Linked DNA regions of Homo sapiens: region 1 is linked to region 2. Evidence: fine-mapped expression QTL. A gene starts in region 2. The other region holds a variant in brackets. All regions are shown on one strand. Distances are between the middles of the regions.

The links.
Region 1: its variant is fine-mapped to the expression of INTS15 in whole blood (INTERVAL, PIP above 0.99).

The regions. Positions count from the first base shown.
Region 1 is chr7:6,627,654-6,633,019 of GRCh38, reverse strand. No RefSeq gene overlaps it. Among named protein-coding and RNA genes, the nearest start is that of ZNF316, 7.0 kb to the left of the region's middle. The variant C/T (reference allele first, on the strand shown) is at 2,291.
Region 2 is chr7:6,586,981-6,592,328 of GRCh38, reverse strand. It overlaps INTS15 (integrator complex subunit 15), which reads right to left and starts at 2,308. Exons shown (of 6, transcript NM_024067.4): 1 at 1,854-2,308; 2 at 462-683. The coding sequence starts at 2,045. ZDHHC4 (zDHHC palmitoyltransferase 4) reads right to left here. Exons shown (of 8, transcript NM_001134389.2): 8 at 2,955-3,712. The coding sequence ends at 3,419. It overlaps LOC124901582 (a long non-coding RNA gene), which reads left to right and starts at 2,425. Exons shown (of 2, transcript XR_007060201.1): 1 at 2,425-2,869; 2 at 3,104-3,406. RefSeq lists a silencer at 1,984-2,483 and enhancers at 2,554-2,703, 2,328-3,166.

The DNA.
Region 1 (5,366 bases), 41 kb before region 2:
AACCCTGTTGCTACTAAAAATACAAAAATTAGGGGCCAGGCACAGTGGCTCACACCTGTAATCCCAGCACTTGGGGAGGCCAAGGTGGGCGGATCATCTGAGGTCAGGATTTCAAGACCAGCCTGGCCAACATGGAGAAACCCTGTCTCTACTAAAAATATAAAATTAGCCAGGTGTGGTGGCACACACCTGTAATCCCAGCTACTCGGGAGGCTGAGGCAGGAGAATCGCTTGAACCCGGGAGGCAGAGGTTGCAGTGAGCCGAGATTGTGTCATTACACTCCAGCCTGAGTGACAGAGTGAGACTCCATCTCAAAAATTAAATAATGTGGGGCGCAGTAGCTCATGCCTGTAATCCCAGCACTTTGGGAGGCCAAGGCCGGTGGATCACCTGAGGTCAGGAGTTGAAAACCAGCCTGACCAACATGGTGAAACCCCGTCTCTACTAAAAAAAAAATACAAAAATTTAGCTGGGCGTGGTGGTGGGTGCCTGTAATCCCAGCTACTCAGGAGACTGAGGCAGGAGAATCGCTTGAACCCGGGAGGCGGAGGTTGCAGTGAGCCGAGATCGCGCCCCTGCACTCCAGTATGGGCGACAGAGTGAGACTCCGTCTCAAAAAAAAAAAAAAGTAAATCATACCCTTTTTGCACTAGTACAATTCCATGTCAGTCATCTATCTATGAGCAGTTGGTGGGGTTGGGGCTGGGGGAATATCCAAGCATACTCATGAAACAGTTCCTGGGGTGTCATCTGCCTGGCTCCTGCCCATCCTCCACGGTGGGTGCTGGCAGTGAGGAGGGTGCCAGCCCACCCAGTGATTGGCATGAAGCTTGTTCTATGCTTCAGCCTTCGTGTGTCTCACTGGCAGGGACACAGGGTATGTGAAAAGTTAACAGGCATCTGGGGCATTTGGAATTCTGTGAGGCCGAGAGCATCTCCGTTCAAGTACATGGGCCTGCCCCGTATCTGCACAGACCCACCTGCAGGGACTGAACATTGACTGGGCAGAGCTCCCCTTCACTCGGCTCTCGGGACTTCCTCAGCTGTCTCTTCCTGCAGGAAGCCCTCCTGGGCTCCTCCTGAGCTCTCACACCAGGGGCTGGCAGGGAGCCTGGCACAGAAGGATGCTGATGGATGCCCCCACGGAGCCTCTGTGTGCCTGGAGTGGGCTGAAGGCAGTAGTGCTGCTATTAAAACCATAGGTGAGGCTGGGAGCGGTGACTCATGTTTCGTGTTAGTCGGTTCTCCTATTGCTATAAAGAACTGCCAGAGACTAGGTAATTTAAGAAAAGAGGTTTCACTGGCTCATGTCTCTGCAGCCTATACAGAAAGCATGGCTGGGGAGGCCTCAGGAAACGTACAGTCATGGCAAAAGGTGAAGGGGGAGCCAGCACTTCAAATGGTGGCAGCAGGAGGAATGAGAGAGAAGGGAGGGGTGCCACACACTTGTAAACAACTAGATCTCACAAGAACTCACTGTCGTGGTGACAGCTCCAGGGGGAATGGTATCAAACCATGAGAAATTGCCCCCATAATCCAATCATCTCCCACCAGGCCCCACCTCTAACACTGGGGATTACAGTTGAACTTGAGAGGCCAGGAATGGTGGCTCAGGCCTGTAATCTCGGTACTTTGGGAGGCCAAAGTGGGTGGATCACCTGAGGTCAGGAGTTTGAGTCCAGCCTGGCGAACCTGGTGAAACCCCGTCTCTACTAAAAATACAAAAATTAGCTAGGAGTGGTGGCGAGTGCCTATAATCCCCGCTACTCAGGAGGCTGAGGCAGGAGAATCTCTTGAACCCAGGAGGTGGAGGTTGCAGTGAGCTGAGATCACACCATTGCACTCCAGCCTGGGTGACAGAGGGAGACTCAGTCTCCAAAAATAAATAAATAACAATTGAACATGAGATTTGGGTGGGGACACAGATCCAAACCATATTATTCCTGTAATCCCAGCACTTTGGGAAGCCAAGGTGGGAGGATCGATCACTTGAGCCCAGGAGTTCGAGAACAGCCTGAGCAACATAGTGAGACTTCGTCTCTACAAAAAGTAGAAAAAATTAGCCAGGTATGGTGGTGCGAGCCTGTAGTTCCAGCTACTCGGGAGGGTGAGCCTGCAGTGAGCTATGATGGTGCCACTGCACTCTAGCCTGAGCGACAGACTGAGACCCTGTCTCAAGAAAAAAAAGAAAAAGAAAACAAAGCTGGACAGTAGTTAAAACGGTAAAAAACAGATTTTATTCAGGAACTATTGCAATAGGGAAAAGAGACCTCAGTATAGAACTGGGCT[C/T]AATTCTGAATACAGCAGGGACAAGTGGAGACTTCCAGCCTAGGAGCAGGTTGGAGGGGAGTGGGTGGGTGGAAAAATACGAAGGAGTGGGAGGTTGTGGTTGAACTGACTCCCAGGATCCTGGCTGAAGGCAGGCAAGAGTGATCAGAGGGCACCTGGCAGGTGGTGGGAGAGGAGGGATTTGATCAGATACCAAGGGTGGAGATTCTGGCTAAACTGACTTGACAGGATTTTTGCTACAGCTGGGCAATGCAGAGACGGGCACAGACACTCAAAGGTCAAGGCTGAGTGGAGAAGAGGCTCCGGGGAGGCTGAAGGCCGCTCAAGGAAATAGAAAGACTGTGTTTCCAGCCCTGCATGCCTCCTCATCGGCAGTTGAGACCCCACTGCTGCCTGCTCCTTCCCATTCCATTGCGGGGACCTGGACTTGATCTAGCCCTGTCTGGTGGACACACTTTTGTAGGTGCCAGGAGGGAGGAATCTGCTCCTCCTTTCTGCCCCCGACAGCCCCCAGCCCCAGTGGCCACTCACTCCCAGCATGCCTTGCAGCTGCCTGAGTGGGAGACTGTGGTGGACTCGGAGCTGGGGCAGGGAGGACAAGCTTCTTCTGGAAGGGCAATGGGCAGAGGGTGACCTGGTCTTTCACGGTGGTGTCAAGGACCATAGAGCCAGGCCACATTCTCCCCACGTTAACTTTCCCAAAGGGATCAGTTTTCTGCTGAACAATCATTCCCATTTACTGGGAATTATTGGGCAGTGCCTCATGCCTGTAATCCCAGCACTTTGTGGGGGGCTGAGGCGAGAGGATTGATTGAGCCCAGGAGTTTGAGACCAGTCTGGGCAACATAGCAAGACCTCGCCTCTACAAAAAATTTAAAAATTAGAGGTCGGGGCCGGGCGTGGTGGCTCACGCCTGTAATCCCAGCACTTTGGGAGGCCAAGGTGGGCAGATCACGAGGTCAGGAGATCGAGACCATCCTGGCTAACACGGTGAAACCCCGTCTCTACTAAAAATACAAAAAATTAGCTGGGCATGGTGGCGGGCGCCTGTAGTCCCAGCTACTCGGGAGGCTGAGGCAGGAGAATGGCGTGAACCTGGGAGGCGGAGCTTGCAGTGAGCCGAGATTGCGCCACTGTACTCCAGCCTGGGTGACAGAGTGAGACTCCGTCTCAAAAAAAAAAAAAAAAAAAAAAAAATTAGAGGTCGGGCTCAGTGGCTCACGCCTGTAATCTCAGTACTTTGGGAGGCTGAAGCAGGCGGATCACCTGAGGTCGGGAGTTCAAGACCAGCCTGACCAACATGGAGAAACCCCGTCTCTACTAAAAATGCAAAATGAGCCGGGATGAGGTGGCAGGAGCCTTTAATCCCAGCTACTCGGGAGGCTGAGGCAGGAGAGTCACTTGAACCCAGGAGAGGGAGGTTGCGGTGAGCTGAGATCGCACCATTGCACTCCAGCCTGGGCAACAAGAGCAAAACTGTGTCTCAAAAAAAGCAAATGAATAAAATAAAAATAAAAATAAAAATAAAAATAAATTAGCTGGGCATGGTGGTGCACACCTGTAGTCCCAGCTACTCAGGAGGCAGAGACAGGAAGATCACTTGAGCTTGAGCCCAAGTTCAAGGCTGCAGTGAGCTATGACTGCACCACTGCATTCCAGCCTGGGCGACAGAGTCAGACCCTGTCTCAAAAAAAAAAAAAGAAAAAATTCCAGTTACCAGAGCTTAACTCTGTCACCTTGAAGTCTTGTCATCTCTCACCTGGTTCCCTTAAACAGCCTTCGGATGGCTTCCTGCTGTCCATCGGGACCACATGCCACACCCCATCCACCTTGGCAAGTCATAACCTTCCCCAGCACCTGACGCCTTTCATAGCCACCATGGACCCCCCACCAGGGCAAGAAATTCCAGCCACAGGACCACTCAGACCCCTGGATTTGCCCCCAGCTCCCACCTCAGGCTCTTGCTCAAGACAAATGTCCCCTACCACCACTGCATCCCCCTCTCTGGTCACCTTTCAGGCTGGGCTGAAATACCACCTGTCCCCATGCAGGCCGGGGAACTCCTCTTTCTGTCATCCCTTGATTATTGGTGTGTGACTCTCAGGCTGCACCTCATGGTTGGGACTTGTGGGGGGGCCTTGCCCTACTCCAGGCCTGATGCCATGAGCTGAAGGCCCTGGATGCCATGATAGCCAGCGGCACGGTGCAGGAGCTCAAGCTGAGGCTAAAGTGAGGGGCTGCCTTTCTGGTGCTCCAGCCCACCTCTGTTAGCCACCTCCAGTGCCCTCCAGGGAGGGAAAGCTGCCCACTAACAGGCCAGTGGCTGGCTGGGCTGAGCAGCAATGTCCATGTGGGTATCTGTTTTTCTTGTTCTTGCTGTTTCCTGCTGTCTCGGGGTGCACAGGCCCAGGCAGGCCATGTCCCTGGGGCAGGCTGCCAATCACCTCTCCTCTTTCCTCCTGCTCACATAAGCAGCAGGATGGCAGGTGGACCAGCCGCTGACATAGGCCCGCTTGTCCTCCCTCTTTCCCTAGGCTGCCTCCTGTTGGCAGAAGGCCAGGAGCCCTTCATGGGGGAGGTGTGGGGGGCATCCTCTGTTTTCAGGGTTTTGTTTCATTTGTTTGTTTGTTTTGAGACAGAGTCTTGCTCAGTCGCCAGGCAGGAGTGCAGTGGTGCGATCTCGGCTCACTACAACCTCCGCCTCTGGGGTTCAAGTGATTCCCCTGCCTCAGCCTCCCAAGCAGCTGGGACTACACGCACGCACCACCACCCCTGGCTAATTATTTTTGTATTTTAGTAGAGACGGAGTTTCACCATGTTGGCCAGGATGGTCTCGATCTCCTGACCTCGTGATCTGCCTGCCTCGGCCTCACAGAGTGCTGGGATTACAGGCGTGAGCCACCGCGCCTGGCCAGAATTGAACCCAGTTCTATCAGTTCTATACTAAGGTCTCTTTTCCCTATTGTCTCTGTTTGTTTTTGAGATGGAGTCTTGCTCTGTCGTCCAGGCTGGAGTGCAGTGGCACGATCTCAGCTCACTGCAACCTCTGCCTCCCGGGTTCAAGCAATTCTCCTGC
Region 2 (5,348 bases):
CTCCCAAAGTGCTGGGATTACAGGAGTGAACCACTAAGCATGGCCAAAAAAAATAATTTAAACAAACAAACAAAAAACACTCCAGAAATCTAATTAAATGAGAATTCCGAACAGCAAAATCATCTTCAGAGACTCTCAGGGGAGACTCTTTTTTTTTTGAGACGGAGTCTTGCTCTGTCACCCAGGCTGGAGTGCAATGGCACCATCTCAGCTCACTGCAACCTCTGCCTCCCGGGTTCATGTGATTCTCCTGCCTCAGCCTCCTGAGTAGCTGGGGTTACAGGTATGCAACACCATGCCCGGCTAATTTTGTATTTTTAGTAGAGACATGATTTCGCCATGTTGGTCAGGCTGGTCTTGAACCCCTGACCTCAAGTGATCCGCCCACCTCAGCTTCCCAAAGTGCTGGGATTACAGGCATGAGCCACCGCACCCGGCCGAGGGTCTCTCTTGAGCAGTACCTGAAGCCAGGAGGCAGCACACTCCAACACCGGGATTCGACACACAGCCACCGCCATGGAGACCAGTTTTCCCAACAAGCTCATCCGGCTGTCATCGGCTTTGTTCCCTTGAGGGCTGAAAAGGGATGAAAAAATAATCTGCCGAACAGAGTCCTTGGTTTGCTCCTGGAAATAATTGCACATGATTTCAAGAAGTTGAAGCTCCTGAAGGGAATTCAGTCTCTGCAAAAGAAATCCCGGAAAAGCGTTAAGAAATGTGGCTGTAACGTACTTATTAACTCATACATTAAGAAAACAGGAAATAGACTGGGCGCGGTGGCTCATGCCTGTAATCCCAGCACTTTGGGAGGCCAAGGTGGGCGAATCACGAGGTCAAGAGTTCGAGACCAGCCTGGCCAACATGGTGAAACCCCATCTCTACTAAAAATACAACAATTAGCCGGCATGGTGGCGCGCACCTGTAATCCCAGCTACTCGGGAGGCTTAGGCAGGAATCTCGCTTGAACCTGGGAGGCGGAGGTTGCAGTGAGCCGAGATCGCACCACTGCACTCCAGCCTGGTGACAGAGTGAGACTCCGTCTCAAAAAAAAAAAAAAAAAGAAAAACAGGAAATAACAGTATTTTCCCGTAGAACTTTTCGCCCTTCGTAAAGTTCCCGTAGAACTTTTCGCCCTTCGTAAAGCTCAGGTCTCAGGGAGATCTTTGCTGTTGATCTTAGAAAAAAGTCATATAGGCCAGGCGTTGTGGCTCACGCCTGTAATTCCAACACTTTGGAGGCCAAGGAGAGAGAATCTTGAGCCCAGGAGTTTGAGACCAGCCTGGGTAACACAGGGAGGCCCCATCTCTACAAAACATTCAAAAATTAGCTGGGCATGGTGGTGCACGCCTGGAGTCCCAGCTACTCAGAAGGATGAGGCGGGAGGATTACTTGAGCCCAGGAGTTCAAGGTTGTAGTGAGCTGTGATTGCACCACTGCACTCCTGCCTGGGCAACGTAGTGAAACCTTGTCTCGAAAAAAAAAAAGGCAGAGAAAGAAAAAAAAAAGAAAAAGATGTAAGAAGAAAGCCATACAGATCATTATACATCCTCCTGGAGGGTTCAGGATGAGCCTTTCGGTAACAGCCCAACAGACCTCTAGGGAGCGGGCAGTCGCCAGTTTGTCCCTTTAACACCAAGACTCGGCTGTCACACGCCCCGCAGACTGGACAGGCAGCTGAGCAACACTGCAGGACCCGGAGAAGGGTTTGGGGGCTGCTGCAGGAGCGAGGCCGAGCGCGAGCGCGGGGATCCTGGACATGGGGCGCCCGCGGCTTGACACAGCCCTGCATCGCTGGGGAAAAGGCCCGCCCGCCCGCCTGCGGGGCCCGGGAACCCGACCGTCTCAGGCCGCACCTTGGGCTGCGCGCTGCGCTCCTTGGGCACCTGGAACACGAACTCCTCCAGCAGCTCCACGGGGCCCTTGTCCACGATGGGCAGCGGCGCGCTCTGCAGCTGGCTGCTGAAGTAGATGTCCAGGTGGTACAACACCTCCTTGGCGGCGCTCAGCGCATCGCGGCGCAGCAGCGAGTGGCGGATGTCGCTCATGGTGCGGCCGCCGCGGCCCCCGCGCCGAGCGCGTCTCACTTCCGCCCGGGGCCCGGGACTGCGCCGCTACCCGTGGAAACAAAGAGGCGCGACCCGGGCCTGGGCTGCGGCACCCGCCCGCTTGCCCGCCTGCCGCCGCCTGCTCCCTGCCTGCTCAGGGGGCCATCGCTGCTGCCGCCGGCCAGCAGGCGCCCGAAGGTCCGACTGCGGCGCCGCCAGGAGCCGCCGGGAGCTGCCGCCGCGCAGCCGAACAGCGGCCGAATGCCGGGCACGGAGACGGCGGCCCGCAGGGGCCAAGCGCAGGCCGCGGCCTAGGCGCGCTCTCCGGAGGGCGCCCCCTGGCGGCGCGAGCGGTGAGGGGCGCGCCGCGGTCCCAGGTGGACCCCGCCCCCGGAGCCCGCCCAACCGCCGGTGCAGGCCCGCTCCGTCCTTGCCCAGGCTCCCTCGCGGGCTGTGCGTCGCGTTCAGAGCTGCCGCTGGTTGATTTCACGGTGCTTTCCACCAGCAAGAATTGGGGGTGGTGCCGGGCTTTGGCTTCGGCCAGCGGACTTGGGTTCCCTGGCCGCCCCAGCTACCCGTCTTCACGTTTCCATCTGTTCTCAGCTGGGGGGTACGGGGGAAGATGGCTGGAAGGCCCCCTGCCCCTGACTCCCACTTCCCAGCCTCTCTGACTGCGGGCTCCTTGGCCTAGCAAGGTGCAGAACACCTGCCACCTGCACCTGAGAGCCCTCCCACTCCAAAGACCTTCCGCACCAAGACCTCGTTTCTGGCAGTCATGTCTCCTCTGAAATAGGTGGCAGTTCACTTTCACAATTTTTAAACTGGTGAGAAAGGACTTGAATGTGGCTAGAGGAGGGCAGGCCGGAGGCCACACATGCAGGAAGGTGCCTGATGTACAAGCCCATACTGGCCGGAAGGCAGGCCTGGGTGAGGACACTCTGTTGTTGAGATGAAAATCCCCTGGGGGAGAGAGGAGAATAGAGGGGGCATAAAAGAGAGCACAGCCAGGCACAACGCGCAGGCGCTGAGTCAATGAGACCCTCCTGCACATCACACAGGTCAGAGACACGGCCGCAAGCCCCTCCTGTCCACATGCCCAGAGTTTAGAGACACCAAGGTCTCAGCATCACCTAGAACCTCTGAGAAGTCATCTCTTGATCCCCTTGACACCAGGACTTCAGAGATGCCCGGTTTCAAAAGAAGACAAGCAAGGGGGATTCCTCAGTCAACACCCATTTTCCCCTCTCTCCCTTGCCCACCGAAAGTGATTTATAAGCACAGCAGAAATCAAAACAAACAAGCCATGCTTGGAAAACGAGGATCCACATGTGTAAATAAACGGGAACTACAGCTCAAAGGCAGTCATACACTTGTCATTCTTGTTTCTTCCTCTCATGACATGGAAAGGCAGGTAGAAAGATCTCTTGAAGGTTGCTCCGAAGCCCATGGGAGTGAATGTTCCGGTGGACTTGGGGCTCTGCTGACGGAGGCCAGGCCACAAGGGGACAACGCTGGCACCAGGCCCAGTCACCTCTGTACCACTCGTTAGTAGTCTGGTTGGTGGCCGCCAGATACAGGACAAACAACAGGTAGCCACCCAGGAGGAAGCTCAGAACCACGACAAAGCCCAGCATGAAGACAATCCGTGGAAAAGTCAGGAACAGGTACTAGGAGCAGAGAAAAGGTAGTGCTTTAGGCAGCTGGACTGTGACATCCATGAGAGTGAACACTGGCCAACCCTGGGCCTGCCACAGCCACCAGCGCTGCTTCCTCAGCCCACCTACTTGTGTCCAGATGTGACAAACTGAACATAAACAGCACTGAGAAGCAGCCCAGAATAATCCCAGTACATACAAGAGTTTCCTGTGGGATGAATGAAGTGTTCACACTGAAGGAAAAGGGAAAGTTTACTTAGGAAATGTGCTATTCCAGTTAGCTATTTATAAAATAAATGCAGACTTCATTCATCAATATAAAATCCAGATGGACAAAAGAGATCAATGTCTTTCTTAAAACAATACAACCCCAAAAATAGATGTACAAGGATATTCGTTGTATCATTGATTTTATCAGCCCCTCTTCCGAAGTTTTTTTCCTTTTCTTAATAAATAGAAACAGGGGCCGGGCGCAATGGCTCACGCCTATAATCCCAGCATTTTGGGAGGCCGAGGCGGGCAGATCACTTGAGGTCAGGAGTTTGACACCAGCCTGGCCAACATGGTGAAACCCTTCTCTACTAAAAATACAAAAGTTAGCCGGGTGTGGTGGCACAAGCCTGTAATCCCAGCTACTCAAGAGGCTGAGGCAGAAGAATTGCTTCAACCCGGGCGGTGAAGGTTACAGTGAGCTGAGATTGTGCAACTGCACTCCAGCCTAGGCGACAGAGCAAGACTCCATCTAAAAATAAATAAATAAATAAATAAATCAATAGAAACAGGGTCTTGCTATGTTGCCCAGGCTGCTTTCAAACTCCTGGCCTTGAGTGATCCTCCTGCCTTGACCTCCCAAATTGTTGGGATTACAGGCGTGAGCCACTGTGCCTGGCCAAGAAACAAGTTAAATGTCCATCCGTCAGGAAGGGTAAACTCTGGGATGGTCACACAATGGGAAAACGAGGAGCCATGAAAAATGATGTCAATTTCTATGTACTGATTGTGAAAAGACTTAATATATTGACTAATGAGAAAGGCAAGATGTAAGGATTACACTGTCATCTTGTTTGGGTAAAAACAAAACTGACTCCGTAAATGGTATATGACCATAGGAACTGCGCTGCTTAAAGTTTTGTAAGTTATTTTTGTAATAAGCAAAATGAAGAATTTAGAAAGTTTAATATTTTTGAAAGTCACAAGAAAAGAGAACATTTAACAAAACTCCTGATGGAGGAGACTTTCTTGTTGAAGTTACAAAGAAAAGAAATTTGATGAGAAAGAATGTCTGAACTTTTCTATACCAAAAAACCCCAAAAAACCCAAAACCCCATTCCCAAGATCCAAAAGATCCACAAACAAAAAAACAGTATAACAAAAGATTAACCGTCATTATTATATAAAGACCTCAAATCAAAAGTGATTCTGGGCCAGTCATGGTGGCTCACACCTGTAATCCCAGCACTTTGGGAGGCCAAGGTGGGAGCATTTGAGCCCAGGAGGTCCAGGTCATAGTGAGCTGTGATGGTACCACTGCACTCCAGCCTAGGTGACAGAGTGAGACTCTGTCTCAAAAAAAAAAAAAAGTTACCATATGACCCAGCAGTGCCACTTCTAGGTGGAATGTACCCAAGAGAAATATAAACATAAAACA